Homo sapiens: one gene and its partner. The protein of the gene in region 1 purifies or fractionates together with the protein of each later gene. This does not show direct contact. Each region holds a gene or a part of one and is shown on either strand. Other genes may lie near its edges.

Evidence for each region.
Region 2: the proteins of SWAP70 (region 1) and PACSIN2 purify together in Homo sapiens (affinity purification with mass spectrometry; 2 studies listed by BioGRID and IntAct, with this or other methods). This does not show direct contact.

Annotation. Positions count from the first base shown.
Region 1 is NC_000011.10:9,738,841-9,751,385, forward strand, and holds part of SWAP70 (switch-associated protein 70), read left to right. Parts: intron 1-1,340; coding exon 1,341-1,507; intron 1,508-9,017; coding exon 9,018-9,216; intron 9,217-10,246; coding exon 10,247-10,343; intron 10,344-11,023; coding exon 11,024-11,130; 3' UTR 11,131-12,545.
Region 2 is NC_000022.11:43,010,312-43,022,885, reverse strand, and holds the start of PACSIN2 (protein kinase C and casein kinase substrate in neurons protein 2), read left to right. Parts: upstream 1-7,736; 5' UTR 7,737-7,865; intron 7,866-12,574.

The DNA of each region.
Region 1 (12,545 bases):
ACAGAGCAAGGCCCTGTCTCCAAAAAAGAAAAAAAAAGAAATTTGTGGAATGATGTGATAAATGCTTGGTTAGGGTGACTATATTTCCTGGTTTGCCTGGGAGAGTCCCTGCCATTCTGGTATAATTATTAATAACATTCCTTTTCATTCTCAAAACAGTTCTGATTTGGAAAATAAATAGTTATGGAAAAAGTAAGCATAGGTTCCATGGTATATCTCCTCTGTAATAAGCAAGGATGGCGGGGGTGAGATCCTGAAATTGTGAGAACATCTAGAGTCTGATTTGTTGCTCTTGGCAGCTCCGGTTCATCCTAGAGGCTTCCATCTTCAAGAGACCCAAGATCCAGGTTGTCTTAGGTAGTTAGCTGGTTAGCTGGAACACAGGTCTTCTCACATTGAGTGATACTCTGTCAGAGAGTGCTAAGCCCAGTGCCTAAATAGATGCATGTGACATTTCCTCTAGTCACTTTTTGTTATTTAGAGTTGAAAGAGATGTGTTTGTGGTTCAGAGAAAAGAGGAAGGCAAATGTGATGTAGAGAAACAGCCAGAATGTCTGGTCTTGTTTCCTCTCTGGTCCTTCTTACTGAACATTGGCTTTTTCTTCTTTAAGTTCAGGATTATCACATGCTCTCTCATGACTCTTCTGAAGACAGAGTGAGCTAATGCAAGTGAAAATATTTTATCAACTGCAGAGAAATAGGCTAATGTGTTTGTTATATTTAGGATGTTCTTGTCTTGTAATTTTTAAGGCAGGGATTCAAAACTCTGTAATCCAGAAGGGAAAAACCATTAACGTATACAGATTAACTGAAATGCTTGAGTTCCTCTAGGGCTGGAGGTGCCCCAGGGAGTGGAGACAGCCAGGGAAGTGTGGGAGGAATCCCATGCTGGATGACCTTTCCTTCTTCTTTAGTGTAACACTAAAGAAGACTGGGAAAAGGTTCGTTTGCTCTGACTGGGAAAAGGTTCGTTCCTTTTAGAGAAGACCCTATTGGTAAAAAGATTGTGACTTTAAGACAGAAAGGAATTTAGAGAGAAATTACACAAGGAAACATTTTTTTCTTGACTTGAGTCTTAAAATGTGGAGTGGAAGGGATGGAAAATACAGCAGGGCAGAACATAATTTGGGTTATAATTTGCTCTTCCCAGACTCTTTCACTATTGCGATTGGGTGTGGTACCCTCATCTCCTCCATCTTTAAGTTCAAGGATTGAAGGACAGGGTCCTGCCACCCTGATGGGCTGAGGCTGCAGCTGTGGGCAACCCCTCAGGTGGAGGTGAGGCTTTCCCTGAGAAAGAAGTCAACCTGCATTTAAACAAGACCCTTTTATACCAACAGATCAGACAGCAGATGGAAGAACAGGTTGCTCAAAAGTCCTCTGAACTGGAACAGTATTTACAGCGAGTACGGGAGCTGGAAGACATGTACCTAAAGCTGCAGGAGGCTCTTGAAGATGAGAGACAGGCCCGGCAAGATGAAGAGACAGTGCGGAAGCTTCAGGCCAGGTGCCAGATTTGTTTGCAGACTTTGCCTTTATGTACTTTGCCTGGGCTAATACAGTTTCTTGGAATGACTAACACTCTGGTGGAGAGGGAGAAGTGTCTCTGCTCTGGCTGTGACTGAGCTCGAGGTGCTGTCCAGATTAGAAAGACTGTGGAGACTCGACCGGCTGGAGTGTTTCTTTTCATTCTGAGGCGCTGGGAAACCCTTGCTTCTGGGGCTAAATAAGGGCCTATTTTAGAGCAGTCTGGTAGGTATGTTTGATGAGGTACCCTTAGTCTTATTCGAGAAAATCCACAAACCCAGAATTACCTCTGATAAGAGCTTGGCATCTTCAACACGCTCCAGACCAGAGAGGGCCATTGGTATGCAGGCAGAGGCCTGTTCAGGCCAACGTTGCCGTCAGGTTTTGAGGAATAAGGAAGAAATATGCAGTTTCTATTTGGTCATTCAGGATTGGTAACATTCCTTCAGTAATTACTACTTGAAATCCTAATTTTAAAAGTATTTGAAACCTAGATTTTTTTTCCCCTTAGAACTTTATGATAGTCATGTTCGCAGATGAAAATTCTCAATTTTGGGCCTTCATGGCAGCAGGGAGGACAAAATAAAATGAAGACTCCCAAAGGGAAAAATTGAGCCTATCCTCTGCCAGTTTCTACTTTGCTGCCCCATTTACATTATTTAAGGTGTCTGGGATGGGAGACAACACTAAAAAGTATTCACTACAGTAGCAGCACAGGGTCCAGTCTTTGATCTCTGACCCCCTGTTTTGGGGAGCAGTTATGAGATGAGCTAGGGTAGATTTTCCATGGCTGCCATTTTACATGTGGAGCAGCAAAAGATGTTTCTTTAATCTTTAGATAGGAAGAGAAAGAAGAAGCCATCTTTAGTTGTATATTTTGCCAAAAGTGACTTCAAAAATAAATAAATTGTTTTGGACATTTAGATTTTAAATTTAAATTTTTTTAAGGAAAAATTATTTTCTAAATAGAAAATTAAGCATGTAGCATATTGCCAGGCATATATAGGCCCCACAGGTGCACATTCACTGCACTGTGAGGTTAATCAGGTTCTTGGAACTCCCCTCCAGTGCCACTCGGCAGTGATTTTAGCAGAAGAGTCACTCTACGGGAATGTTTGAGTGCCATGTGACGTCCAGAGTGACGTTCTACATGACACTCAACATTTTTTGAGCCACCTCATAATTTGAGCCGTGTTGAGAGTTAATAGATTGTTTTTGTGCAAAGAATTCGCAGGTGAAATATGCTATATGTATTACTGCAGTTTTGTGGGAAGTTGATTATGACACAGCAGAGACTAGATCACAGAGGGAACCAGATAATTCTAGAAATACTAGTCTTAGTTATTTAGTGTTTATAGAATGAGTGATATTTTGAATAAGGGATAATTTTGGATAATTGAAGCCAGTGGTTTTTTAACCAATGTTATGTATCAGAATCACCTCACAAAGCTTCTGAAAAATACACCACAAAGTGTGGCTCACCCACCACACTTTGGGAGGCCGAGGCTGGAGGATCACTTGAACCCAGGAGTTTATGACCAGCCTGAGCAACATGGTGAAACCTCATCTTTAAAAAAAAAAAAAAAAAAAAGTCTACTTGGGAGGCTGAGGCAGGAGGATCACTTGAGTCCAGGAGGTTGAGGCTGCAGTGAGCTGCATTTGCACCACTGTACTACAGCCTGGGGGACAGAATGAGACCCTGTCTCAAAAAAAACACAAAACAACAACGGCAAAAAACTCCAGCTAATTATTTTGCACACTCTGATTTAAGCAATAGCAAAATGGTTTCAACCTTTTGAATCCAGATGTAACTTCTACATACAGCTCTGATCCAATATGCTGAAAGTACTGCACACAAATTTAACTTTTTCTTAATGTGCAAAGGGCATTTTATGAATATAATTATTTTATTATTCTAAATTTTTTTTTCTCTTAGTTTTTGGAACCTGAAATGGACAAATTTGCCCCCCTGCTCCCTTTTTTTTTCTGAGATGGAGTCTTGCTCTGTTATCAGGCTGGAGTGCAGTGGCGTGATCTCGGCTCACTGCAATCTCCGCCTCCTGGGTTCAAGCGACTCTCCTGCCTCAGCCTCCCGAGTAGCTGGGAGTACAGGCGCGCACCACCACACCTGGCTAATTTTTGTATTTTTAGTAGAGATGGGGTTTTGCCATGTTGGCCAGGATGGACTCCATCTCCTGACCTTGTGATCCGCCTGTCTCGGTCTCCCAAAGTGCTGGGATTACAGGCATGAGCCACCACGCCCGGCCTAGTGGTCATTTTTAAGTGAAATGTGTTCCTCTTTCCTGAAGTCACTGAAGGCTGTGGCTGATTCAGAGGGACTTTCTGTCAGATTGGCAGAGAGGGTTTGTTCTTTGCTCCTCAGGATAGGCCTTTCTGGATAGAAAAATCAAGGGAAGTCATCCTGGAGTTGGGTTGGAAAACTGGCACTAATGAAATGCACATAATCTTACGCCAAGGGCCTGTGTAAAAGGCTGCTCAGTTAACTCTTCTCACTCCTTTTTTTTTTTTTTTAATTTTATTATTATTATACTTTAAGTTTTAGGGTACATGTGCACAATGTGCAGGTTTGTTACATATGTATACATGTGCCATGCTGGTGTGCTACACCCATTAACTCGTCATTTAGCATTAGGTATATCTCCTAATGCTATCCCTCCCCCCTCCCCCCACCCCACAACAGGCCCCGGTGTGTGATGTTCCCCTTCCTGTGTCCAAGTGTTCTCATTGTTCAGTTCCCACCTATGAGTGAGAATATGCGGTGTTTGGTTTTTTGTTCTTGCGATAGTTTACTGAGAATGATGATTTCCAATTTCATCCATGTCCCTACAAAGGACATGAACTCATCCTTTTTTATGGCTGCATAGTATTCCATGGTGTATATGTGCCACATTTTCTTCATCCAGTCTATCATTGTTGGACATTTGGGTTGATTCCAAGTCTTTGCTATTGTGAATAATGCCGCAATAAACATACTTGTGCATGTGTCTTTATAGCAGCATGATTTATAATCCTTTGGGTATATACCCAGTAATGGGATGGCTGGGTCAAATGGTATTTCTAATTCTAGATCCCTGAGGAATCGCCACACTGACTTCCACAAAGGTTGAACTAGTTTACAGTCCCACCAACAGTGTAAAAGTGTTCCTATTTCTCCACATCCTCTCTAGCACCTGTTGTTTCCTGACTTTTTAATGATTGCCATTCTAACTGGTGTGAGATGGTATCTCATTGTGGTTTTGATTTGCATTTCTCTGATGGCCAGTGATGGTGAGCATTTTTTCATGTGTTTTTTGGCTGCATAAATGTCTTCTTTTGAGAAGTGTCTGTTCATGTCCTTCGCCCACTTTTTGATGGGGTTGTTTCTTTTTTTCTTGTAAATTTGTTTGCTCACTCCTTTCTTAAAGCAACAGCCGATCATTCGTGGAATATTTGGAATCTCATTATTCTTTTAATGGATAGTTCTTTCTCTGTCAGTCTCTTAAAAAGACAGTGTCTTAAAAAAAAAGAGAAACTTTTTATAGTAAATTGTTTAAATGAAAGACAAGAACTTTAGCTTGAAACACGTAGATCTTGTAATTTTTTTTTTTTTTTTGAGACGGAGTCTCGCTCTGTCACCCAGACTGGAGTGTAGTGGCGTGATCTCGGCTCACTGCAAGCTCTGCCTCCCAGGTTCAAGCCATTCTCCTGCCTCAGCCTCCTGAGCAGCTGGGACTACAGGCGCCTGCCACCACGCCCAGCTAATTTTTTGTATTTTTAGTAGAGACGGGGTTTAACCGTGTTAGCCGGGATGGTCTTGATCTCCTGACCTCGTGATCCACCCGCCTCGGCCTCCCAAAGTGCTGGGATTACAGGCTTGAGCCACTGCACCTGGCCAGATCTTGTAATTTTAAAAATTACGATTGAAGTTTTTTATTAACTTTTAATTTTTGTGGGTACACAGTAGGTGTTTATATTTGTGAGGTACATGAGATATTTTGATACAGGCATACAATGTGTAATAATCACATCAGGGTAAATGGGGTATCCATCACCTCAAGCATTTATCCTTAGTCTTACAAACAGTCCACTATACTGTTTTAGTTAGTTTTAAATGTACAATTAAATTATGATTGACTATAGTCACCCTTTCTGCTATGAAGTTTATTTTTTTATGTGTAATCCTGAAGGTGATCTAGCCACTTCTGAATGAGAACTCAGAAGAAAACTGTTCATTTAAAATGTAGAATACTCAAGTTATTGGCCGGACATGGTGGCTCACGCTCTAATCCCAGCACTTTGGGAGGCTGAGGCGGGCGGATCCCTTGAGGCTCGGAGTTTGAGACCAGCCTGGCCAGCATGGTGAAACCCTGTCTCTACTAAAAATACAAAAATTAGCTGGGCGTGGTGGTGCATGCCTATAATCCCAGCTACTCGGGAGGCTGAGACACTTGAATCCAGGAGGTAGAGGTTGCAGTGAGCTGAGATTGCACCACTGTACTCCAGCCTGTCTCAAAAAAGAAAAAAACAAAAAAGAAAAAATTAAGAAAAATCGAGTTATTGGAAAGTTCTTGAGGCTGAGCCATAATCTGTCCTGTTGTAACTCTTACCCACTTTGGATCTGTAACACCCTGGAGTACACCTTAGTCGTGTCTGTATTCCCAGCAACTCGTACCTGGCACACAGTAAGTACCCAGGGAAATTTTTTTGAATGAATGAATGGATCCAATGGGACCACATGGAACAACAGTCCCTCTTACATTTGATATAATACTTTTCATATATTTGAAGGTTAGAGACTGGGCTCTGGAATGAGGCCACGGTTTGATTCCTGGCTCTGGTACTTTTAGCTGTGTAACTTGAGAGAATGGCCAACTTTATACAGTTGTTGTGAGGATGAAATGAAATGATGCATGCAGAGTGTTTTAGAGTAATGCCTAGCATTTGGGAGTCACTCCGAGTGTGTTGCTTTCTGTTCCTTTATCTCATTTGCAGACGGGGAAGATATATAATGTGTGGAATGTAAAAATAAGCATTCAGAAAAAAGATGTTGACAGGCTAGAATGATGATTTTAGACCAAGAAGCTAATTTAACATATCAAAAGAACAAGTACAGGATCCAGGAGACTTGGCTTTATAGAAATTCATTTGAAAAGTTCTACAGTTTCATTTCCCTGAAATGTGGTTGCCAAAACCCTATACACTCTTAGGCAGCCTTAATGAATGTGAAGTGTCCAGAGCAAATGAGATAATTGTCCCTCTATAATATGAGCTGTTACCTACCAGTACTTGCTGTGTGGTAGGCATGTAAACACCTTATGTGCATTATCGCATTTAATACACTAATAAACCTTTGATGGTAGGTGTAGTTTCTATTCCTTTTTTGATAAATGAGGAAGCCGATACACAGAAAAAGAGTGAGGCACTGAAGTCTTTAGTCAGGAGTCTTACTTGCGAACCACAGAAACCACCTTGTATTAGCTAAAGCAATAAAACAATTTGTTGAAAGTTTCTTAAATAGTTTGCCAGTTCCACAGAAAGGCAGGTGACCAGGCCTTGAACACAGGCAGGAATCACAGGGGGATGAGCAGCCCCAACTACAGCCCAAGCCAGGCCATGGGAAGAGTCCAGTGAGGATGCCGCTGGCGCCCATGTTGGTACCAGGCATCAGCAGTGCCATCGCTCCTGCTGTCACTCAACACTGCATATTACTGCCACCGGCAAGATGAATTCTCTACTGGCTCTGCTTCTTTGTGCCAGGTGCTTCAGAGTCAAAGTTCCAGAAGGAGCATCTACATAGCCAAGCCCAGCTTGTGCCTCCACCATACCCTAGCTGCCAAGGGGTGGGAGGGCAGGTGTCTGGCCTGTGGATTCTATAGCGGGAAATGAGCCCTACCTTCCATCAAGTCTTCTACTATGGCAGTTCCCCTAGACACATGAAGGAGTTCAGAGGCTGGGCAGCCTAAGCACCTGGAAATGTCCATTCCCCCTCCATACTTTTACCACTAGAATGAAAAAACAGACCCATCCAGTCTTGTTCATTCTTATATCCCCAGTGCCTAGAAAAGCACGTAGAAGGCACATAAAAAATACACATCAACTGAGTGAATAAACTCTGCACTGGTCAGACCACATCTGTAGTGTCGTGTTCTGTTGTGTACATCAAACTCCAAGAGACATCTGAGGAGACCTCAGTGTCTCCAAAGAAGGATATTGAGTCTGGAAGCTGGGTCCCATTAGTTAAGGCTGGAGGTGGTCTTCTTGGAGAAGGATGTTCTCAACAGGCAACAAAGCTGCCTTCCAGTTGCGAAAGGGCTATCACAGGGAAGAGGGAGTAGATACTTCCTTTGTGGAACTAGGGTAGTGGATGGGAGAACTCATCTTAGTATAAGAAAAAACTTCGTAAGAATTGAAGCTGCCCATAAATAAACTGGCCCAATTTGTGAGGCAACGAGTGGTAGCCCATCACCTAGAGTATTGGAGCTGAGTTGAATAACAACCTTGCAGGAAGTTGTAGAGGGAATTTGGAAATTGGTGTTGGTATAGTCTGTTACTTTATTCCTTTGTTGTTAGTTTTATAAGAGCAGATGCTGGCAGGTAGTAGTAACTGACCAGTCATGTGACTTGACTTTGTTACCATAATATTGTTGCTCAAGCCACTAGATATGTATCCTGTCCTTGGCTGGCATCGAACGACACTATATACACTTTAATGCAGGTTTTGGCTGTTTGTTAGTTTATTTAAACAACTACATAGCTGGGTATTCCCAGATAGGTATTCCTGTTATTTTGGAGTCACACAGACCTGGGTTAAAATCCATTATAACCTGTGCAACATACTTTTAAACCCTTTGGTTTTTCATTGCTTCATCTGTAATGTAGGGACAATACCTTTCAGGATTGTCAGGGGATTAGCAATAATGGAGGCAAGGGCCTGGCATGTAGCAATTGTTCAATAAATAGTATCTCTATTCTGTCTGCGTTCACTCCTTTCTTCATCTTCATTATCAGCTTTTTCCATGGTAACAGGTTTTTACTAGATGAAAATGTTTTCATGTTGTAGCAACCAGGCAAACTTCAAATCTTGGCCCTGCCACCTGGCAGGTGGATGATCCTAGTACAGGCCACTGAACCTTTGTGTCTCACTTGCACCATCTCTAAAATATGAGTAGCAGCACCTAAATTTACTGTGAGGATTAATTGAGAAAATACACTTGACTCTTAGGCCAGTTCCTGGCACACATTAAACTCTGGATAAATGTTATTTTTTATTTCACAAACGGGTGAAACTGAGAGAGCTTAGAGCAGGACATATAGGCTGCTTTACCAGCTTTGTGAATATGAGCTTCTCTGGCTCCTGCTTTCCTCCTGGTGGAATGAAAGGGGGATTAGACGACCTCAAATATTCTCTTGTCTAAAATGCTTCCCTCGTCTGCTGGGTCAGGGTGGTGACCTGGGCAGGATTTGATCTGGAGCTTTCCTCCACATTGTAGGTTGTTGGAGGAAGAGTCTTCCAAGAGGGCTGAACTAGAAAAGTGGCACTTGGAGCAGCAGCAGGCCATTCAGACAACCGAGGCGGAGAAGCAGGAGTTGGAGAATCAGCGTGTCCTGAAGGAACAGGCCCTGCAGGAGGCCATGGAGCAGCTGGAGCAGCTTGAGTTAGAACGGAAGCAAGCACTTGAGCAGTACGAGGTAATGAGACTTGGCCCTGCAAACTTGTATATTTAAATTTTTGAAAAACATTTCTCAATAATAGAATTATTTGCTTAGCTGCCAATATGAAGCTGTAGTAAGAATCTTGCTTAGCTGTAAGAAAGAAAAAAGAGGGAGTTTTTACAGGAGATAAGATATATTATACATCCATCAGAGACAGAAACTGCACAGTAATTTGAACAGGGAAAGTTTAATATAAAACATTATTAACTGTCATAGGAGATTACCTACTGTGTTGTAAAGAAGGCTTTGAGAATGCAGGAACAGCAGACGTAGGGAGCAGCCACTGCCTCGAAAACTGAGGCAGAGCACCAGGGAGGGAGTGGATCTGGAAGAGCATTCTTTGCTTCTTGCCCCTTAACCCCAGTGTTGTGATCCATACCTCCATGGAGAGGGTGCACAGATGGCAGAAAAGTTTGTTGAGGTGCTGTGCCAGCAAAGCTCACTGGGAGGCCACCGGCAAAAGCTGCCCACAGGGAGGTGCTACAGAAACTCACTGGTGGTGAGCACTGTGGGTGTTCTGAGTGCCACAGGAGCCGCTGAGTGGAACCTAGAAGAAAAGTCCCTCCCTCCTCGTGTCCCTTCAGCACCCTCTACTGACAAAGCTTTATGCTGCCAGCTAGTGAGGAGAATTATTTTAGTTTCACCAGCAGGACAGTTCAGGGTGGATTTGGAGTGGAGAGGCAGTAAACTGTAACTGGCACACAGGGCCATACACCCATTGTAATTCGTATGCAGATGGTGGAAGAATAGGCTTTGGAATCAGACAGCCTGGGTTCCAATTCTGGCTCTACCATTTCCTGCTGTGTGACTCTCGGCAGGTTACTGACCTTCTCTGAACCCGTTTTCACTCTGTACAATGGGGTAATAGTAGTTCCCACTTCTTAGAATGGGCTATGAGAGGATTTAATGAGATAATTCACAAATACATAGTAAGGGCCCAATAGTTGTGATTTGGTTCTTAAACTACCCGTGTGTCTGCATAGTCCAAAATCCACTTTTGTTTCAGGAAGTTAAAAAGAAGCTGGAGATGGCAACTAATAAGACCAAGAGCTGGAAGGACAAAGTGGCCCATCATGAAGGATTAATTCGACTGATAGAACCAGGTAACAGACTCTATGAAGTAATCATATATTTATTTTTATTTTTCATTTTTATTTTATTTAATTAATTTATTTATTTTGAGATGGAGTCTCGCTCTGTCGCCCAGGCTGGATGGAGTGCAGTGGTGCGATCTTGGCTCACTGCAAGCTCCGCCTCCTGGGTTCATGCCATTCTCCTGCCTTAACCTCCCAAGTAGCTGGGACTACAGGTGCCCGCCACCACGACCGGCTAATTTTTTGTATTTTTAGTAGAGACGGGGTTTCACCGTGTTAACCAGGATGGTCTTGATCTCCTGACCTCGTGATCCGCCCGCCTCAGCCTCCCAAAGTCCTGGAATTACAGGCGTGAGCCACCACGCCCTGCCCATATATTTATTTTTAAATTTATTTTTCTGTTTCACTTGTGTATTTGAATTGTACTAAAGAAACTTTTTTAGCCCAAATGTAAAAAAACCAAGCTGTTCAGGATAAATTTCTCTTGAAAATCTTATCCCCTAATAGGTAAGAGGGCCCAGTTAATCCCCTTGGTATACATCTTCTAATTGTTTTAGCTGGTATGACATTTATGCATGTTCCTCAAAGAAGAAATAAAGTAGGGAAGTTACTATTTTGTCTGTAGAAAAATGATGGGGTATCCTGAAGAATATAATACTTCCTGTATTTAAAGCATGTTTGCCTCTTAGGTTCAAAGAACCCTCACCTGATCACTAACTGGGGACCTGCAGCTTTCACTGAGGCAGAACTTGAAGAGAGAGAGAAGAACTGGAAAGAGAAAAAGACCACGGAGTGACTGAGCTTGCTGGCAGTCACGTCAGTTATGTAGATACTGCATGGCAGGAGAGCTTTACGCTAAAGACAAAAGAAACAGCTTTGGGGGCCGGGCGTGGTGGCTCACGCCTGTAATCCCAGCACTTTGGGAGGCCGAGGCGGGTGGATCACCTGAGGTCAGGAGTTCAAGAGCAGCCTGGCCAACCTGGTGAAACCCTGTCTCTACTAAAAATACAAAAAAAATTAGCTGAGCGTGGTGGCGGGCGCCTGTAATCCCAGCTACTTGGGAGGCTGAGGCAGGAGAATCACTTGAACGTGGGAGGCGGAGGTTGCAGCGAGCTGAGATCATGCCGTTGTACTCCAGCTTGGGCAACAGAGTGAGACTCCATCTCAAAACAAAACAAAACAAAACAAAACAAAAAAACCCGGCTTTGCTGCTTTTAACTCTTCTTCCTTCTGTGCCTCTCTAAGTGGGTCAGTATCCTAAGGAAGCCTTCTTATTTATCTTCCTGCAAACAAGGGTTACCTGAAAAGAAAAAAAAAGTCAACATTGTCAAGCTGTTTGTTTACTCTTTCTTTGAAAACATCACCTTCTGAAATTTGTCTTTTAGCTCTCTCAGATTCTTCCCCAAATGAGGCAGGGTGCAGACAGCACAGTCAGCTCTGCAGAGTTTGGAGGGGCTCACTGCCACTGGGTACTCAGAACCTCTGTGGACTGGATGTCAGCTCTTTCCTTTGGCAGCGTGTTTCCTTTTCCGAGTATGTGCTGTTAAACTAGATTGGCCGGTTCGCTTTCCATTTCCTGACACTTGACATGGAATGCCTTTGACCATTGGTGCTCTGACAGAGAAGTCATGGAGTCATTGCCATTTCCTGGTTGCCCTTTTGGAATGTGATCCTGTTAGTAGAGGTTTTCTAGCTTCTACTAAGATATTTCTTTCCCTAACCATCATACACTTGGCATGTTTCATTCCCATCTCCTTTCCCCTCACCTTAAAGGAGACTACCCCTTTGCCCCATATTGTCAACCTAATTTTCTCTCGTACTCTCTCTAGTGAATGATGTGCTACCAAGTATATGCCAGGCTGTGAGAGGATTATACTGAGTAGTAGAAAGAAGCTAATTTGAAATAAAAATTATTTGTATAATTAAGAAAGCAGATTAGATGCACATGGTCAACAGGAAGTTGACTGTATGTCTGCTAGTTAGATTCAAAACATCATAAAGATGATAGCATGTCAATATATTAGCCTAGCCATTATGTTAGCCTTTGTTAGGTGGGCAGCTTTTCTGCTTTTTCCCTTCCTCTGTGGTGACAACGGAGGAAATATCCAACAGAAATACGTCTAACAGGGAAATTGGGATCATAGTTTATATGCATCTGATTTGAAAGGAGTATTGAGGAAGGTTTTCATATATGATCTATCTTTGGATTAA
Region 2 (12,574 bases), on another chromosome or scaffold:
TGTCCTTTAAGCTCTTGGGCACAGGTTTATGGAACAACTTGCTGTTTGTGTGTGGTTTTTTTTCTTTCTTTCTTTCTTTTTCTTTTCTTTTTTTTTTTTTTTGAGATGCAGTTTTGCTGTTGTCACCCAGGCTGGAGTGCAGTGGCGCGATCTCGGCTCACTGCAACCTCTGCCTCCCGAGTAGCTGGGATTATAGGCACGCACCACCATGCCCAGCTAATTTTTTTGTATTTTTAGTAGAGGTGCGGCTTCACCATGTTGGCAAGGCTGGTCTCGAACTCCTGACCTCGTGATCCACCTGCCTTGGCCTCCAAAAGTGATGGAATTACAGGCGTGAGTTTGTTTTTGAGATGGAGTCTCGCTCTGCCCCAAAGCTGAAGTGGAATGGTGCAATCTCAGCTCACTGCATCACTGCAACCTCCGCCTCCCGGGTTCAAGTGATTCTCGTGCCTCAGCCAGGATTACAGGCGTGCGTCACCATGCCCAGCTAATTTTTGTGTTTTTAGTAGAGACATAGTTTCACCATGTTGGCCAGGCTGGTCTTTTTTTTTTTTTTTTTTTTGAGACTGAGTCTCATTCTGTCGCCCAGGCTGGAGTGCAGTGGCGCGATCTCGACTCACTGCAAGCTCCGCCTCCCGGGTTCACGCCATTCTTCTGCCTCAGCCTCCCGAGTAGCTGGGACCACAGGCGCCTGCCATGACGCCTGGCTAATTTTTTGTATTTGTAGTGGAGACAGGGTTTCACCGTGTTAGCCAGGATGGTCTCAATCTCCTGACCTCGTGATCCGCCCGCCTTGGCCTCCCAAAGTGCTGGGATTACAGGCATGAGCCACCGTGCCCCGCCTCAAGGCTGGTCTTGAACTTCTGACCTCAAGTGATCCGCCCTCCTAGGCCTCCCAAAGTGCTGGGATTATAGGCATGAGCCACTGTGCCTGGCAGGTATTTTATTTTTATTGGTATACAATTTATAATGTATGTATTGGTGTACAGGTTATTTTACAAGTTCAAGTTAACAACATTTATTTGTCATAGGGCTGGGCGCCGTGGCTTATGTCTGTAATCTCAGTACCTAGCACTTTTTTTTTTTGGCAGAATCTTGCTCTGTCGCCCAGGCTAGAGTGCAGTGGCATGATCTCAGCTCACTGCAACCTCCACCTCCTGGGTTTAAGTGATTCTCATTCCTCAGCCTCCCAAGTGGCTGGGACTACAGGCGCCCACCACCACACCCGGCTAAAATTTGTATTTTTAGTACAGATGCAGTTTTGCCATATTGTCCAGGCTTGTCTCGAACTCCTGGCCTCAAGTGATCTGCCTGCCTCGGCCTCCCAGAGTGCTGAGGTTACAGGCATGAGCCACTGCGTTTGGCCAATCTCAGCACTTTCAAAAGCTGATGTGGGAGGATCGCTTAAGACCAGGAGTTCAAGATCAGTCTGGGCAACGTAGTGAGACCCCATCTCTGCAAAAAATATTTAAACCATTAGCCAGGTGTGGTGGGACATGCCTGTAGTCCCAGCTATTTGGGAGGCTGAGGCTGCAGTGAGGTATGATCACACCATTGCACTGCAGTCTGGGTGACAAAGCAAGACCCTCTCTCAAAAGAAAAAGAAAAAAAAATAAATAGAATGTAAGGCACATATGTAATCTTGTACCCACATTTAAAAAGTATAAAAATTCTCGGCATGGTAGTGCCTGCCTATAGCACCAGCTACTCGGGAGGGCTGAAGTGGGAGGATCACTTGAGCCTAGGAGTTTGAATCCAGCCTGGGCTAACATAGCAAGACCCTGTCTCCAAAAAGTATAAAGAAACGGTAAAATTATTTTAAAAATTAGGAATGCAAAAGGTTTATGGAAAAAAAATAAAAAAAGAGAAAATATTTGTTATAAAGTTAATCAGGAAGGGCAATGTTACTTTTTTGATGCATTTACATTTTGAGACTGCTGCAATGTTTTAAAAAGTAGCCTCATTCACGCCTGTAATCCCAGCACTTTGGGAAGCTGAGGCAGGCGGATCACGAGGTCAGGAGATCGAGACAATCCTGGCTAACACACGGTGAAACCCCGTCTCTACTAAAAAATATAAAAAATTAGCCAGGCGTGGTGGCAGGTGCCTGTAGTCCCAGCTACTCGGGAGGCTGAGGCAGGAGAGTCGCTGGAACCTGAGAGGCGGAGCTTGCAGTGAGCCGAGATCGCGCCACTGCACTCCAGCCTGGGCAACACAGCGAGACTCCGTCTCAAAAAAAAAAAAAAAAAAAGTAGCCTCAGTATCTCATTTTACCTTACACTAAGGCAATCTGGATTCACAGCAGTTGCATCCAATAACTTTAAAAAAAATTAGTTTTACAATTGCAGGATGCCTTTTAATTTATCTAATTAGGAGCTGGCAAAAGGTAAGATGATTGGCTGGATTCAGAATGGAATCTGTTGGCTTCTGGGACCTCCTCATCCTCCTGCATAGCAAGGACTCAAGGAGGGACTATTGCCGGAGTTTATATCTTCCTCCCAGAGTAGAAAATACTTTAAAATGTATCACATAAAGCCTGGGCATTGTTAGGTTTTCATTCCAAATTTTAAAACAGTTACTTTGAAATTGTTGACACTGGCCCACTTTGGTACAAATGGTAACACTGTAAACCCGAATTCTCCAAATGAGCTTTTCCACTTAGTAAAATAAGATAGAAGTAGAACCAACTGAAGAACTTGCAAAAAAATTGAGTGATCCCATGGCCGGGCGTGGTGGCTCACGCCTGGAATCCCAGCACTTTGGGAGGCCGAGGTGGGCAGATCATGAGGTCAGGAGATGGAGATCATCCTGGCTAACACGGTGAAACCCCGTCTCTACTAAAAAAATACAAAAAATTAGCTGGGCGCAGTGGCACGCGCTTGTAGTCCCAGCTACTCGGGAGGCTGAGGCAGGAGAATGGCGTGAACCCGGGAGGCAGAGCTTGCAGTGAGCCGAGATAGCGCCACTGCACTCCAGCCTCGGCGACTGAGTGAGACTCCGTCTCAAAAAAAAAAAAAAAAAAAAAAGAATGGATTGATCCCAATTCAGGGCACCTGGGCAGTGCCCAGTGCCCACTTGGGAAGCCCTGTTTGTATGCTGCTCCATACCTACCTTTGTCTGGGAGCAGGCTCCAGCCGGGCATGGCAGGAGTGGAACATTGTACTTGCTGGTACAATTTGACGTGAGCAGACATGTGCAGCCAGAATGGAACAAAACAAAACAAAGCCAGGGAGATTGGGGTAATTGCCTCCTAATCAATGACACATTTACAAAGAATTCAGATCTTTACACGTACTTGGCAGGTGAGCATGTCATTCAGAGGTATGTTCAGAAATGTGTTCCTCCAGCCGCCATAGTTAGTGCTTTGATATGGCCAAAATATTAACAGTTGGTGCACAGCACGTGTTCTTAGGTTTGTTTTCCATTTATTTATTTATTTATTTATTTATTTATTTATTTATTTATTTTTGAGACAGGGTCCTGCTCTGTTGCCCAGGCTGGAGTGCAGTGGTGCAATCTTGGTTCACTGCAGCCTCAATCTCCTGGGCTCAAGTGATCCTCCCACCTCAGCCTCCTGAGTACCTGGGACTACAGGCCTGCACCACCACGTCTGTCTAATTTTTTTTTTTTTTTTTTTTTTTTTTGAGACCAGGATCTCATGATGTTGCCCAGACTGGTCTCCAACTCTTGGACTCAAGTGATGCTCCCGCCTTGGCCTCCCAAAGTACTGGGATTTTAGGCGTGAGCCACCACGCCCAGGCTTTTCTTTTAGACACGATTAAAAATTTAAAAAAGTGAATATACCCTGAAGCACTTTTACAAAATCAGGGGTCCTTGAACACACTGAACAATGACCTGTGCCAGGCCCCATGCTGAATATTGCAGAGCGAACTCACAAATCCTCACAGATTCTCTAAGCTAACAATCACTAGGTTTTGTGATTATCCCCGTTTTACAGTAGGGAAAACCAAGGGCTGGAGTAGTGAAGTCACTTGCCAGGGCCGCAGAGCTCCTTGCCGCTCGGCTGCCTTACTGCCTTGTTTCCCCTGGCTTCTCTTTGTGCCTGCAATGCAGCCAAGTGGAACCCTCCTCTCTTCCTGGACAGGAGGAGTTCTTGCCTCCTGATCTTTGCTCTCTGTAATCTTCCACTCATTTTGGCTCAGGTAAACAGCACTGTTTTCAATACCACTGCACCCTCTTCTGTTCTAAACTCTATGTCCTTGCCAGATCTTTCCAGGAACATCAGCAGGACCCAGGTCCACCCCGAGCCACCTTCCCTGCCTGGCACGTTCTAAATATTGGAATTATTGAGTGAGTGAATGTCTGTAACTGATTTTGATTTTTTTTCTTGAAAGACATGTATCACTGTACAATCCATAAATCACTGTACTTATCACACTGAAAATACACGTATCACTGTATTTTCAGCAATACAACTATATCTGGATGTTTTAAATTTTTTGAGAATATGATATTCTCTGTGCAAGTATGTTTTAGCCCAGACTGTCTGTTTATCCAGGCTGCTTAGTGGGAAATGGTTAATAAAGGACTAAACTAAAGCCGGTCAGTCTCAGTCCCAGGCACTCTGTGGCAATGGTCACATTTTGGGGGAAGGAAGGAGCAGCTGACAAGGCATGACCACATGTCCACCGTTCAGACACAGCATTCACAGCCGTGTGCCCGGAACAGCTCTCCATGCTTTGACTCCTTACCACAGCCCTGTTGCTCTTCCTAATCCCCATATCACGGAGGGGACACAGAGGTGCAGAGAGCTGCAGTGACTGGCCCAAGGCCCCTTGGCTGAAAAGGGGTGGAGGCAGGATTGGGCTCCAGGCCTGTTCAAATATGACTGAAGGAGGAGGCTGGATGGAATGTTGTGAAATGTTTGTGGGGAACAAAGTTGGGGTGCTCACATGTGGCAACGGGGAGCTATCTTTGGAAAAATACCCTGATAAGCTGCCAGGACAGAAGGTATAAGGCCCAAAGAGTTCAGGCAATGATGTCAAGCTGCTAGGTGCAAGACAAGGAAAGGAATTTTGTGTTTGTCCTGAGAAGGAGGAGGAGAGAAAAGAAGAGGGGGAGAGTGCAGAAAACCAAAGGCATGTGAAGTGGCCAGAGTGTGGCATGGGTCACGTGACCAGGTGGTGACTCCTGGGGCCAGGCAGCCAAAAAGGCTCACGAGGCATCCTGTCTTGTTGCTGGGCAGTGCCAGGCTTGATGCCTCTCTCCAGCTTCCAGTCTTCAGGAACCCCTGCTAGACTCAGCAGTGCTTGGAGTGCAGGGGGATTCGTGCAACTGGATAAGGGGATGATGGTGAGACCAGTGAGCATGCGGTGTGTGGAAGAGCAGGAGGCCTGATGACAGACGCTTGTTCAGAAACCTTGGGAGAGGCTGCGTACAGTGGCTCGTGCGTGTAATCCCAGCACTTTGGGAGGATGAGGCAGGAGGATTGCTTGAGCCCAGGAGTTCAAGACGAGCCTGGGCAACATGGCGAGATTCTGTCTCTACAAAGATTTTAAAAAATAATTAACTGGGCATGGTGGTGCGCACCAGTGGTCGCAGCTACTTGGGAGGCTGAGGCAGGAGGATGGCTTGAGCCTAGGAGGTCAAGGCTGCAGTGAGCCATCATTGTGCCACTGCATTCCAGCCTGGGCATCAGAGTGAGACCCTGTCTCAAACAAACCAAAACAAAAACCCCCAAAAATTTGGGAGAGGCTCTGTATTTCTTTTTTTTTTTGAGGCGGAGTCTCACTCTGTTGCCCGGGCTGGAGTGCAGTGGCGCGATATCAGCTCACTGCAAGCTCCGCCTCCCGGGTTCACGCCATTCTCCTGCCTCAGCCTCCCGAGTAGCTGGGACCACAGGCGACCGCCACCACGCCTGGCTAATTTTTTGTATTTTTAGTAGAGACAGGGTTTCACCATGTTAGCCAGGATGGTCTTGATCTCCTGACCTCGTGATCCGCCCGTCTCGGCCTCCCAAAGTGCTAGGATTACAGGCGTGAGCCACAGCGCCCGACAAGGCTCTATATTTTTATAGGGCATGGAATTGCGATGTAAGCGGAACTTACCCAGATATGAAAGTGCTGAGAGCTGATGGCTGAGTTCTATCTATACAAATGGTCCACAGGTATTGTGGGTGGCAAAGAGGTCCCTGTTGGCTCAGTCCTGGAGAATGAGGAGAGACTTCTTGGCAGTGGTTTGTCCTGGCACTGTGTGTTGGTTTTTTTTTTTTTTTTTTGAGATGGAGTCTCGCACTGTCGCCAGGGCTGGAGTACAGTGGCGTGATCTTGGCTCACTGCAACCTCCGCCTCCCAGGTTCAAGTGATTCTCCTGCCTCAGACTCCCAAGTAGCTGGGATTACAGGTGCATGCCACCACACCCAGCTAATTTTTTGTATTTTTAGCAGAGACAGGCTTTCACTGTGTTGGCCAGGCTGGTCTCAAACTCCTGACCTTGTGATCTGCCCGCCTCGGCCTCCCAGAGTACTGGGATTCCAGGCGTGAGCCACCGTGCCTAGCCGGTTCTTTTGTTTCTTTCTCAATTATTGTCATAAGGACAATGCCACAGAGCAGTCTAGAAAGTAAACAACCACTAGATTTCTTTGTGGACTCTTTTCTCATACCTATCTATATGTAGCAGCAATTCTACAGTTTCTACCATTTTGTATCTAGCTTTTTCTTTTATTATTATTTTCTTTTATTTTACTTTTTAGAGAACTGGGTCTTGCTATGTGGCCCAGGTTGGCCTCAAACTCCTGGGCTGAAGCGATTCTCCTGCCTCGGCGTCCCAAGAAGCTGGGATTCCAGGTGCATGTCACCATGCCTGGCTCTATCTGGCTTTTTCTTTTAACGTTTTAGTTTAAGCATTTTCCCATAGTGCTACACAGTCATCATTATTATTCTCAAGGGTTGGGCTGACCTGGGTTTCTAATCCTGGCTCTGCCATTTACTCTCTTTACTCCACATCACCCCCAGCAAGTTACCTGGCTCACCCCTCACCTGGGGTTCCTCTCACCATCCTCTCCACCTGGATGACATGAAGCAGTGCTTGGACAGCGCGTAGGACAGTGCTCAGGAAGTGCTCTCCATTTTCCTTCAAGAGTATTTCCCTCTGCAGAACGGGGCTAATACCCTATCATGCAAGGTGATTGTGAGAATTGGAAAGAATGCGTGTGCATTGCCTGGTGCCTTGCCATCCAAATATATTTTATTAGAGAGAGCAGCAACATACGCCCCCCCAACCCCCCGTTTAAACTAAGCGGGTCCACGTGGAATGACGCTTTTGGCGCAAGTCGGAGGAGCTCCTAACGACATTAGCTTCTTTGAGTCCCTTGGGAGAGGAAACTTTCTGAAAGACTGTAGGATTACCTTCCCTGAACTTCCGGTCAGGTGCGGTGCTGCCCTGCCGCGCCCTCTTACCCCTGGATGCCGACGAAACCGCAAAACTCCAGCCCCGGGAAGCGCGTCTCAAGGACCACCACCAGCGAGCGGCTTTGGGAGAGTAATCTGCGCCACCCTCGCAGCCCATTAAATAGGCACTCCCCGTTTGATTGACAGGAGAAGTCACCAATGCGCGTCCTGGGGCTTTCCCTCGTCCTCACGCGGGGTGAGCCGCCTCTCTACTCATCTGGCCCAATCGGGGGCGCCGGGGAGGCTGTGGGGCGGGGCTCGGTGTCCGGTAGCCAATGGACAGAGCCCAGCGGGAGCGGCGGGGGCGGTGCGGTCGCGGCTGGCGGCAGAAGCGGCCGCAGGGGTCTGGGCAGGGCTGGGCAGTGCTGCCGGAGCAAAAGCGGTAGCGGGAGCCCGGCCGGAGCTGGGTCTGGAGACGCCGTGGCAGCCTGAACGGAGTGTGCGACGGATTGGGAGGTGAGTGGCCGCCGAGGTCAGGGGTCGCCGCGACGGTTGGGGCGCCGCGGGCGGGACGCGGGGGCGCTGGTCCGCGGCCGGGCCCGCGCCCCGTCAGGGCCGCCGCGCCGAGCTCCGCGCCCTGAGGGAAGCGGGTCGGGCCGCGCGGAACTTCCTGTCTCTGTGGGAGGGGGCGAGTGCTCGGGGCCCCGGGGGGCGCCTGGAGAAGACATCTTGGGGAGGACGAGGGCGAGTGGGGTCGGCTCGGGGAAGGGGCGGGGGCCCATGGGGGCGGCGCTGTGGGAGCGGGGCAGTTTTCCGGGGTCCGGGGCCTGCTGGAGAGGGAAGTGCAGGAGCAGGGCCGTCGGGGGTTAAGAGCTGCTAATGAGTGGGGGAGGTGTAGACAGCTGCAGAAGGGGGAGCTGGGGCGACTTTTGGAGGGACGCGATTTAGGAGAAAGCTGGGAATCCGAGACGTGCAGAGGTTAGGCGAGGGTGCCGGAGCAACGCTGGAGGGAAGGCGTGGCTGGGACGCGCCGGTGAGAGGGCAGGGCTTAGTCCTGGGGTGGCCTGGGGGGCGACGCAGGACACACGCGGGTGCGCTGATTTCGGGCGCTTTGATGAGCGGCCTCCATTTCCTTCCTTCCCACCCTCCGTGTCCCGGGGGGGGGGGGGTGGTGTGTGTGTGTCTGTGTGTGTGTGTGTGTGTGTGTGTGTGTGTAGGGCGGGGGGAGCAAAGCCCTTACCGCAGCACGTCCTAGGGCTGGGGCCAAGCAGGAGAGGCCGGGGAGGTTTGCCCTTGTGACCCTCCTCAGAGTTTCCCCAGACTCACTGAATCAGAAATCCGAACTCCTTACTCCTCTAGGGCTTTCAAGCCTGGCCAGGCATCCTGAGAGGTCCGCAATTGGAGAGGTAGTGATTGCTGCTGCTGTTGAATTTCATTGATTCATTGGGTTTCGGCTCCATCAGAGAAGGTCGATTTTCTTTTCAGAAGGAGTTGGTTGGTCAGGGGAGCAAGCTGTGCTATTGCTTTGGGGCCCACACGGCTGCAGCCTTTGACGTATAACAGGACCTGGGGATGCCACTCTTGGCTTGGGTGCCTGAGGGAAGGTGGCCTTTGGCTGGGTGTGTGCACCATTCCTGGATCCTGTCTTCTCTTTTTCCCTCCGCCTGTCCGGTGTTTTTGTGGTTAAGGGGGTAGGCTGCTCAGAGTCTCCAGGGCTACTTGGTACACTGTTTACCAAATACTGCCTGGCTGTCTTGATGAAAATCAGGAAACCAGCTCAAAGAGTTTGAACCTCAGCTGCAGATGGTGAGCTCACACCTTCTTCCTTCCCTCCTTTTCGGTGCCTTCCTCTGCGGTTATTCCCGTGTGCTGAAGTTCTGTTTTAACCCTCCTGGGATTGCCAGGTTGGAGCCCAGGGCAAGGGAACCGACCAGGCAGGCAGTGTTGAATGCCAGCCCTCCTGTTCTTGCCCAAGATGTTGTCGTTCCACTTGATTCATGAGCCTGCCTGCATGCAGCCTCCTCATGGAGACATTGAAGCTGTGCCAGTGCAACTTGGATCTCTCTTGATTCACCTGGAAAACTTTCACTTGTGTGGACTTAAACTTAATTCTAGAGTTTGGTAGCCTCTTTGGTGAGGTTATGCTGGTTGAGATATGAGGCCACTACATCAAAAACATTGGTGTGTTTTTCTTTTGACAATAGACTTAAAGCTTTAAAGAAAGTGGCCATTAGGCTGGTGATATTTATTACTTGGGAAAGTAACATAACACAGAGAAGTAGATGGGTGATTAGGTCTGCACTCTTTATCCACTTTTTGGGAGAAGAATAACAACTCATTTGAATGGAAATGGTATCCTTAGCTCGTGCTGCTTTGGGACTTGGAACTTTATCACTTTTAATCTCAAATGTATATGAAGTTGTGATGTGATATTTAAATAATCTAGGCTGGGCGGGGTGGCTCACGCCTGGGATCCCAGCACTTGGGAAGGCCGAGGCGGGCAGATCACCTGAGGTCAGAACTTAGAGACCAGCCTGGCTAACATGGTGAAACCCCGTCTCTACTAAAGATACAAAAATTAAGGCCGGGCGTGGTGGCTCACGCCTGTAATCTCCAGCACTTTGGGAGGCAGAGGCGGGCGGATCACCAGAGGTCGGGAGTTCGAGACCAGCTTGACCAACATGGAGAAACCCCATGTCTACTAAAAATACAAAATTAGCTGGGTGTGGTGGTGCTCATACCTGTAATCCCAGCTACTTGGGAGGCTGAGGAAGGAGAATTGCTTGAACCCAGGAGGCGGAGGTTGCGGTGAGCCAAGATCCGGCCGTTGCACTCCAGCCTAGGCAACAAGAGCAAAACTCCTGTTTCAAAAAAAAAAAAAAATTAGTCTGGCGTAGTGGTGCACACGTGTAATCTCAGCCTCAGCTACTTGGGAGGCTGTGGCATGATAATTGCTTGAACCTGGGAGATGGAAGTTGCAGTGCACTGAGATCACACCACTGCACTCTAGCCTGGGTGACAGAGTGAGACTCTGTTTAAAAATAAATAAATCTAAAAGTATGCATATATTTAAAAAAAATTCTGGATTTCCACCAACATAGCATTCTGCAGGGAGATAACATGAACTTTTCCCTAATCCTGGATACCCATCCACATCTCTGATGGCCAGGCATTTCTGGAGTGGGAGCAGAGGGGCATTTGTCCTTGCTTTTTTTTTTTTTTTTTTTTTGAGAGAGAGTCTCTGCCCAGGTTCAAATGATTCCTCTGCCTCAGCCTCCTCAGTAGTTGGGATTACAGGCGCCTGCCACCTTGCCTGGCTAGTTTTTGTATGTTTGTATGTATGTATGTATGTATGTATGTATGTATGTATGTATGTATGTATTTATTTATTTTGAGACAGAGTCTCGCTCTGTCGCCCGGGCTGGAGGCAGTGGTGCGATCTCAGCTCACTGTAACCTCTGCCTCCCAGGTTCAAGTGATTCCCCTGCCTCAGCCTCCTGAGTAACTGGGACTACAGGCATCCACCACCACGCCTGGCTAATTTTTGTATTTATAGTAGAGACGGGATTTCACCGTGTTGGCCAGTATGGTCTCGATTTCCTGACCTTGTGATCCACCTGCCTTGGCCTCCCAAAGTGCTGGGATTACAGGCACCTGCCACCTTGCCTGGCTAGTTTTTGTATTTTTAATAGAGATGGGGTTTTACCATGTTGGCCAGGCTGATCTGGAACTCCTGACCTCAGGTGATCTGCCCACCTCAGCTTCCCAAAGTGCTGGGATTACAGGCGCCTGCCACCTTGCCTGGTTAGTTTTTGTATTTTTAATAGAGATGGGGTTTCACAGTGTTGGCCAGGCTGATCTGGAACTCCTGACCTCCAGTGATCTGCCCGCCTCGGCCTCGCAGATGTCCTTGCCTTTTGTTTCTTCTCTATACCTTGAAAGTCTGTGCTGTGTTAAGGGCGTCATGCTCAGGCTTACTGATTCTGAAGGGGTTATCAGTGGATGATTCCGGATGTTGTGGAATATCAAACAGATCGAAAAGTTTCTTTAATAATAGTGATGGCACCTTGTGTTTAGAGTTCGCAGTGGCATTTACCAGATGCTCTCTGGCCACCTTCATGTGAACCTCCCAGCTGACTCGGGCCTGCTTTATCTGCCATCAGATTGTAATGGCAGCTTTGTGGAGGCCGCCCTGTAGATTATGCGATTAATGACCACATTCATGTGAGCAATAGTGCTGGCTTAGTTTTTTTCCAGTTAGGTTGTTTGGAATGGTAGCTGCATACCTGAGGGCAGTGCAGCAATGCCTTAGTTACGAAGGCAGTTTGCATTCCACAGGTAGAGTCTTTCCTTATGGCCAGGGCACTGATCCCTCACATACCAGAAAGTATCATTCGTCCCTGCCCCAGACAGACTCCAGATGCGTCCCAGTGGTGGTTCTTGGGATAGTTTTGTAGGAATTTCTGCAGAATTTTAGTGTTCAGATGAGTATGCTCTGTCTGTGGACTGGAGACAGGCTTCAAAGAATTCTCAAATTATTCTGCACAATACATCATTTTTTGGTATCTCTGCAGTTCCAAAGGTAACTACTTGAGGGACAGTGGCCACCAAAGAGCACAAGTTTTGACATTTTGATGAAAAGCACACATAAAACAAATAAAAACCACCTTTCCTTAAGTTACCTATTGAATTGTGCTTATTCCCATAAATGCATGTTCATCTGTTTGCTTAATAAAACTTAAAGCACCATAGAGTCTTTCTTGTTTCCTAGAATAAGGTCTTTTTTCTTTTCCTTTCTTGTCTTTTTTTGTTGTTGTTGTTGTTGAGACGGAGTCTCGCTTTGTTGCCCAGGCTGGAAGTGCCCTGTGGTGTGATCTTGGCTCACTGCAGGCTGCGCCTCCCGAGTTCATGCCATTCTCCTGCCTCAGCCTCCCAAGTAGCTGGGACTACAGGCGCCCGCCGCCACACTTGGCTAATGTTTTGTATTTTTAGTAGAGACGGGGTTTCACTATGTTAGCCAGGATGGTCTTGATCTCCTGACCTTCGTGATCTGCCCGCCTCTGCCTCCCAAAGTGCTGGGATTACAGGCGTGAGCCACCGTGCCTGGCCGGTCTTTTTTATTTTCAATTAAAAAAAAATATATATATATATGTATTTTTAAACAGAGATGGGATTCCGCCATGTTTGCCAGGCTGGTCTCAAACCCCTGGCCTCAAGTGATCCTC